3 separate regions of the Homo sapiens genome follow, and regions 1 and 2 are each linked to region 3. Evidence: fine-mapped expression QTL. A gene starts in region 3. Each other region holds a variant in brackets. All regions are shown on one strand. Distances are between the middles of the regions.

The links. PIP is the estimated chance that this variant, and not a neighbour inherited with it, causes the effect. A credible set is the group of variants that fine-mapping cannot tell apart.
Region 1: its variant is the best candidate, but not a certain one, in a credible set for the expression of GPHN in prefrontal cortex (ROSMAP, PIP 0.61).
Region 2: its variant is the best candidate, but not a certain one, in a credible set for the expression of GPHN in whole blood (INTERVAL, PIP 0.74).

Annotation. Positions count from the first base shown.
Region 1 is chr14:66,182,382-66,185,145 of GRCh38, forward strand. No RefSeq gene overlaps it. Among named protein-coding and RNA genes, the nearest start is that of LINC02290, 72 kb to the left of the region's middle. The variant G/A (reference allele first, on the strand shown) is at 1,620.
Region 2 is chr14:67,094,932-67,097,695 of GRCh38, forward strand. The region is part of intron 12 of GPHN (gephyrin); the gene reads left to right. The region is part of intron 4 of LOC105370538 (a long non-coding RNA gene); the gene reads right to left. Among named protein-coding and RNA genes, the nearest start is that of GARIN2, 93 kb to the right of the region's middle. The variant C/CTT (reference allele first, on the strand shown) is at 1,685.
Region 3 is chr14:66,506,638-66,509,401 of GRCh38, forward strand. GPHN (gephyrin) reads left to right here and starts at 1,510. Exons shown (of 23, transcript NM_020806.5): 1 at 1,510-1,954. The coding sequence starts at 1,891. RefSeq lists silencers at 1,555-1,744, 2,095-2,244 and enhancers at 2,335-2,494, 2,745-2,764.

The DNA of each region.
Region 1 (2,764 bases), 320 kb before region 3:
AGGTGTGGTCTAGAGACTGAGTAGATCCCTGAGGCTGGAAGTTGATATAATTGCCAGAAAGCCACAGTCCTCCCCTGGAAGTGGGATAGCATCTCAGTCATAGATTGCTTTTCATGTATGTTAAAGATATCTGCTTCTGGCTTTTGGAATATATTTGCCAGCAAAGGCAAGTTTAATTAGGGTTAGAGGAAAGGTCCCTACTATCTCTTGCAAACATCCTCAGCCTGAAATGAGTAAAGGCAAGAGTGGGAAACTTTACCCAATCAAGCCCTGCAGGTGATTCTGCTGTAGGGAGCAGTGATCCAGGTGAATCTCTTTACCATCAGAGTTCAACAGCACACACCATTCAAAGCCTGGGTAGCCTCTTCCTTTCTGGTGAAAAGAGCTCCAGCCACATACCAGGCACTGTGATGGGCTCCAAGGTGCAAAAATAAGTAAGATTCTCTTTTGCTTTTGCCTTCACTGAACTAGTGACAAACAGACACATCCAAACTAAGTCCTAACATGATGGGATTAGAACTATGACAGGGGCATTACAAAGTGCTATGGAAATACAAAGGGAGGCTAAGTTAGTTCTAATGGGAGGAGTAGGGCCAGGCAGGCTAGCAGGAAAAGCCTATCATGAACTCTTTATTGAATTAACATGTTCAGTAATTTTAAATTAAGAGGTAGGATTTGAGCTGATAACCAAGAATTCTCCTGCTCAAGAAGGAAATGGCACCCCTAGCAGAAAGAAAACTTGAGCAAAAGACAACTAACATTTAAGATCGTGCTTCCCAAATTAGACATCTTATGCTCAGGAAGCCACTGAGTGGGTCAAGGCACACTCAAAGCCACAGAAAAAGGATGGTGCATCTTTCAGGGATGTTAATTTTGCTTAACTATTTGGGTAAAATAAGCTATATAAAAAGTAATTGAGGGTATTTTTAAAATTAAAATAGAATGAATGTTATAAAATAGAAGCCAAAATTGACTTGAACTTTTTTTTTAATTTTTATTTTTTTTAGACAGGGTCTAATTCTGTCACCCAGGCTGCAGTGCAGTGAATAGCACATCAAATTTCACTGTAACCTCAAGCTCCTGGGCTCAAGCAATCCTTCTGCCTCAACTTGCTGGTAGCTGGGACTACAAGCTTATGCCACTATGCCTGGCTATTTTCTTTATATGTGTGTGTGTGTGTGTGTTTTTGAGACGGAGTCTCACTCTGTCACCCAGGCTGGAGTGCAGTGGCATGATCTCAGATCACTGCAAGCTCCGCCTCCTGGATTCACGCCATTCTTCTGCCTCAGCCTCCCGAGTAGCTGGGACTACAGGTGCCCGCCACTACACCCGGCTAATTTTGTGTGTGTGTGTGGTTTTTTTTAAAATACTTTAAGTTTTAGGGTACATGTGCACAATGTGCAGGTTTGTTACATATGTCTACATGTGCCATGTTGGTGTGCTGCACCCATTAACTCATCGTTTACATTAGGTATGTCACCTAATGCTATCCCTCCCTCCTCCCCCCACCCCACAACAGGCCCCAGTGTGTGATGTTCCCTTTCCTGTGTCCAAGTGTTCTCATTGTTCAATTCCCACCTATGAGTGAGAACATCCGGTGTTTGGTTTTTTGTCCTTGC[G/A]ATAGTTTGCTGAGAATGATGGTTTCCAGCTTTATCCATGTCCCTACAAAGGACATGAACTCATCATTTTTTATGGCTGCATAGTATTCCTTGGTGTATATGTGCCACATTTTCTTAATCCAGTCTATCATTGTTGGACATTTGGGTTGGTTCCAAGTCTTTGCTGTTGTGAATAGTGCTGCAATAAACATACGTGTGCATGTGTCTTTATAGCAGCATGATTTATAATCCTTTGGGTATATACCCAGTAATGGGATGGCTGGGTCAAATGGTATTTCTAGTTCTAGATCCCTGAGGAATCGCCACACTGACTTCCACAATGGTTGAACTAGTTTACAGTCCCACCAACAGTGTAAAAGTGTTCCTATTTCTCCACATCCTCTCCAGCACCTGCTGTTTCCTGACTTTTTAATGATCGCCATTCTAACTGGTGTGAGATGGTATCTCATTGTGGTTTTGATTTGCATTTCTCTAATGGCCAGTGATGATGAGCATTTTTTCATGTGTTTGTTGGCTGCATAAATGTCTTCTTTTGAGAAGTGTCTGTTCATATCCTTTGCTCACTTGTTGATGGTGTTGTTTGTTTTTTTCTTGTAAATTTGTTTGAGTTATTTGTAGATTCTGGATATTAGCCCTTTGTCAGATGAGTAGATTGCAAAAATTTTCTCCCATTCTGTAGGTTGCCTGTTCACTCTGATGGTAGTTTCTTTTGCTGTGCAGAAGCTCTTTAGTTTAATTAGATCCCATTTGTCAATTTTGGCTTTTGTTGCCATTGCTTTTGGTGTTTTAGACATGAAGTCCTTGCCCATGCCTATGTCCTGAATGGTATTGTCTAGCTTTTCTTCTAGGGTTTTTATGGTTTTAGGTCTAACATGTAAGTCTTTAATCCATCTTGAATTAATTTTTGTATAAGGTGTAAGGAAGGGATCCAGATTCAGCTTTCTACATATGGCTAGTCAGTTTTCCCAGCACCATTTATTAAATAGGGAATCCTTTCCCCATTTCTTGTTTTTGTCAGATTTGTCCAAGATCAGATGGTTGTAGATGTGTGGTATTATTTCTGAGGGCTCTGTTCTATTCCATTGGTCTATATCTCTGTTTTGGTACAAGTACCATGCTGTTTTGGTTACTGTAGCCTTGTAGTA
Region 2 (2,764 bases), 590 kb after region 3:
TGTAACCCAAGAGCAATAGGCTATACCATGTAGCCTAGTTGTATAATAGGCTATACCATCTAGGTTTGTGTTAGTACACTCTGTGATGATGTTCACACAACAAAATTGCCTAACAATGCATTTCTCAGAATATATCCCCATTGTTAAGTGACTCATGACTGTATCAGGAAGTTAGATAGATTGATACTTATTTTTCTGTCTTCATAAGACAAACCTTGGTGTTAATGTAAAATTTGGACTCCTGTAGTTCACTAATTTTTTTATTCCTTAAATTTTCTCTTAGTCTGAATTTGTCTATATTCAGTTTGATCTTATAGTGCTCTGCTCCTCAAAAAGGGTAATCCATGGACCAGCAGCCTCAGCATCAGCTTGTTAGAATTTAGAATCTCACTGTTGGTGGGACTGTAAACTAGTTCAACCACTGTGGAAGTCAGTGTGGCGATTCCTCAGGGATCTAGAACTAGAAATACCATTTGGCCCAGCCATCCCATTACTGGGTATATACCCAAAGGACTATAAATCATGCTGCTATAAAGACACATGCACACGTATGTTTATTGTGGCACTATTCACAATAGCAAAGACTTGGAACCAAGCCAAATGTCCAACAATGATAGACTGGATTAAGAAAATGTGGCACATATACACCATGGAATACTATGCAGCCATAAAAAACGATGAGTTCATGTCCTTTGTAGGGACATGGATGAAATTGGAAATCATCATTCTCAGTAAACTATCGCAAGGACAAAAAACCAAACACCGCATGTTCTCACTCATAGATGGGAATTGAACAGTGAGAACCCATGGACACAGGAAGGGGAACATCACACTCTGGGGACTGTTGTGGGGTGGGGGGAGCAGGGAGGGATAGCATTAGGAGATATACCTAATGCTAAATGACAAGTTAATGGGTGCAGCACACCAGCATGGCACATGTATACATATGTAACTAACCGGCACATTGTGCACATGTACCCTAAAACTTAAAGTATAATAATAATAAAAAAACAAAAAAAAAGAAAAGAAAAAGGCAAAAAAAAAAAAAAAAAAAAGAATTTAGAATCTCAGACCTTGTCCCAGCCCTACTAAATTAGAATCTGTATATTCACAAGATCTCGAGATGATTTGCATGCACATTAACTGTTGAGAAATAAGAGAAATAAGAAAAATGACTCCTCTCTTGGTACCAAGAAACTTCTATGTAGTTGTTTGACTGATTCTTCCTTAGCTAGCAATATAGAGACACATTTACCAACTGGAAAGGTTCAGAGTAAGGTTGAGAACATAGTGCAAGTGAGCACATATTCTCTCCACAATTGGTATACTTTCCCTGATAACAAAGACCTTGCTCCTTAGAATCGCTTCAGAGTACTTTCACATATGGACCTCCCTGGAACTCCATACTAGGCTTGCCCCAGATGACCTCCCCAGATGACCTCCAGCTACTCATTATTCAGTTTATTTAGAGGATTATGCAGAATATTGATATGAGCATTTTGAGTTTATGTGCATGTGTGGGGGAACAGGAGAAAAGAGAAATACTTCCCACCAAAAACTTTTTGAGAATGCCAACTTCATTTCTTTATTCTTTTAACAAATATTTATTATCAGCGATGACTTAGGCACTATGCTAGACAGAATAATGACATAATCTAAGTTATACAGAATTAATCAAAGCAGT[C/CTT]TTTTTTTTTTTTTTTTTGAGACAGGATCTCGCTATGTTGCTCTGGCTGGAGTGTAGTGGTACAATCCCAGCTCACTAAAACCTCCACTCCCCACCCCCCACCCGGTTCTCAAGCCATCTTTGTGCCTCAGCCTCCCAAGTAGCTAGACTACAGGCACACACCACCACACCTGGCTATTTTTTGTATTTTTGTAGAGGTGGGGTTTTGCCATGTTGCCCAGCTTTGTCTCAAACTCCTGAGCTGAAGTGATTTGCCCAGCCAAAGCAGTCTTTCTAAACATTCTTAAGATGTTGACTCAAATTTTGAAGGAAACAATATATATGGATCAGCAAAAAGTATATATAACAAATATAAAACTTTGTGTTAGAAAATATTACTTATTTGGTCATTCGTGCATGAATCTTCTAAGAACGTTTTTGTAGCCACATTCATTCGTCTGCCAACCATTTTTGAATACTTAACATATTGAACATTTATTTAACACCTATTGTACAGCAAGTGCCAGGGATTAGCAAATACTGTAAATATATTTAGAAGCCATAATTGATTTCAGGCTACACTGGGGAAACAAAAGAGGATGCACGCAACTCTTGAGGGGAGAGGAGTCAGATATGACTTCACAGAGAAGATGACACTTGAGCTGAGTCTTAACAGCTAAAAAATCTTTAATCAGAAGGCAAGAATAAGAAAAGGACGCTTTAAGTAGTGGAAGTAGCACATGTCACGGAGCCAACATATGAGTTATCTTGGTATTCTCAGGGATAGTACTAGCAGTTGATAATAGCTAGAGTATAAGATATAAGGAAGACATGAACCAAGGCCTTTGCACATATGTTCTCTTTGCACACAATGATGGAGCACTTCCACTTCATGTCTATCTTTTCCTCTCTCTCCCTCTCCTTCTTTCCCTCCCTATTTCCCTCCCTTTGTCTCTCCCCACCTACATACCTGCACACACACACCCCTACTTAGCTCTTACTCATTCTTCATATTCAAATCAGAAATCCTTTTATCATGCTTTTCATGACTCTCCAGTGTAGCTCAGGTACTTTAATTATATACTCTCATAAAATCATGTT
Region 3 (2,764 bases):
AAGCACGTGAATCTTCAGAGGATGGGTAATTTCATGTTCCAACGGAACAATAAAAAACTCATAATCGGCCAGGCACGGTGGCTCACACCTGTAATCCCAGCACTTTGGGAGGCCAAGGCGGGCGGGTCACGAGGTCAAGATCTTGATCGAGACTATCCTGGCCAACATGGTGAAACCCCGTCTCTACTAATAATACAAAAATTAGCTGGGTGTCGTGGCACGCGCCTGTAGTTCCAGCTACTCGGGAGGCTGACGCAGGAGAATCGCTTGAACCTGGGAGGCAGAGGTTGCAAGTGAGCCGAGATCGCGCCACTGCACTGGAGCCTGGCGACAGAGCGAGACTCCGGATCAAAAAAAACCAAAACCAAAACCAAAAAAAAACCTATCAAAGTGACTTTGAAATTTGTGTATAAACACTGATATACATCTTTTAATACTTTGCTTTTCACTTTTATGCCTCCAGGTTACTACAGCTAAGAAGAGAAAACATATACATATGAGTGTGTGTACACACACACACACGCATATAACTTTTTAAAATTCAGAAGTTGAAAGGTCCAGAACGATAGTAAGAAACTAACGTAGAATAGCCACAGGTGATTAATAACACGTTTCATGAAAGGCACATGGAAATAAATGGCAACAAAAGCTACTTTCATGGTAATCTCACATCCCACGAATACTGAAATGAAAATCGCCGCGGCAATGGACTGTGGTTCAGGTGGAACACGTTCTCGTTCGCTAAGGAGATTGATGCTTTTCATCTAAAAGCAGCGCTCATGGCGAAGAGGCTTAAGGCCACAAAACCGTGGGACAGCAGGAGGAAGAGAAGCCAGGTATCTCCACTCCAGCTGCCCTGCCTCAGACTCCTCAGTTTCGCACGTGAGGATCGTCTTGCAGGCACTGACTGGAGATGGAATCCTAAAGCATAGGTGAAGCGGAAATCCTCCTTCAGGGAGAGCCCACTGAGGAAGCCAGCGGCTAGCACGAGGCAGGACAGGATACCTCCCTCTTCGCCCACGGCGGCCTCTCTGTCATAGTAGCCACCGTTCTGCCACTCATGCAGCTTTCTAAGACACCTCTCGGTTCCCCAGCGCTTTCAGTGGGGCGGCCGGCCATTCCCGAGGGTTGCAAGAGGAGGCCCGGGGTGCTGAGCCAGCCTCGCTGCCCCCGCGTAGAAAGCCGGCCCGCCGGCGAGAGCCAGCCTAAGGCGCGGACAACCAACGAGGTGTCAGGCTCGGCAGGGGATTGCTTCTGTCTGGGGCCCGGCCGAGGTTGCGTTCGTGCCTCGCGCGCACACGCTCCGCGTTCACTCAGCCAATCCGGTGCTACTCGCGCGCCCAGGAGCGATCCGCGGTCCTACTCAGGCTGGGCCGGCTCCTTCCCGCTCCCAATACTCAGCACCCGAGCTCTCACTCCTCCCCTCACTCTCCACGAGTTCCACGCCTAGGGGTGTAGCTCCGCCCTTGTCCCCGAGTCCGCCCCCGCAACCTCCAGAGCGTGTGCTATCCTTTCCTCTCAGTCCTGCCATCTAGCTGCCTTGGGTCTCGCGCTCCGCAGAGCGTTCCGACACTCTCCGGCCTCGTTCTGCCGCCTCCGCGCGCTCTCCCCGTGCGGCCACCGCGCCCCCCAAGCTTGCCTCCTTCTTGCCGGACTTGGGGCCGCGCGCCCTGACTCCTTCCCCTCCCGCGGACCCGCGCACTCCCGGCGCGGCCTCTCCCCCACGCAGGCCACCGTGCACTCTGTGGCCTCCCCCTCCTTCCCCGCTCTCCTCGCGCTTCTCTGGCTCCCTAGCTGTCGCGCTCTCCTCGGCGAGCGCGCTCCCGGCCCGCGCGCTCCGGGCTCCGGTTTCTCCCGGCTCCTGTCAGTGCGGTGACTGCGCTGGGAAACATGGCGACCGAGGGAATGATCCTTACTAACCACGACCATCAAATCCGTGTCGGAGTCCTTACAGGTAACCGGGGGAGGAGGTCTGGGACCTATGAGGCTGCTGTCCCTGCATTGCCTTAGGCTTTTCGCCTGTGGTGGCCCTTCTCTGCGGCCTCGGGAGGAGGGAAGGCTGAAGAAGGGAACCGCGGGGGTGCATTTTACAACCGCTGAGAACCGCCGGAGATTGGGGGTGTTCCCGCGGGTCCCCTCCCCCAGGCCCCAGGAGCCGGGGTCGACCCCGTGGGATGTTAGGCCCCAGCGCCTTCGGAAGCAAAGTCCTGGGCCCCCGGGGACCGAGGGGCCGGTGCGGAGGGCGCTGCGGGGCTCCGCGCTGTCGGTGCAGGCGGCGGGATCCCGGCTCCGCAGTCTGAAGCATGCCGCTCTCGGCTGGCCTGGGCGCATCCTCCGCTAGTGCTCTTCAGAGAGAGGGGGGAATCCCATCTCCACCCCCTTCCTCTCCTTCCCTTCCCCCCACCTGGGCGGCCCCACGCCAGTATCTGTGCTTGCCTGGACGAGACTCAGGTGTTAATCAGATGAAACTGCTCCTCCTCGGGTTGTCCCTCGCGGGCCGGGCGTCCCCTCAGCCACCCATGGGGCACCCTTCGCCTCCCTCGGGGGATGGGGGATCGGCTTGCGTCCGGACCTCGGAAAGTGTCTGCCTTCTGCCTTTCCGCGCAAAAGGCCCTCTGTCTGCCTCGTCGTTTCCTTAGCGAGGACGGGCTGCAGCCTGCTGCCGGGGATCCAGCTTTTTACTTGAGAGGGCAGGATTCCCCTACTCGGGCTCCTCTCCCCCTCCTTTCTGGGAACCCCCACCCCGGTAGAGCGTCCCGAGGCT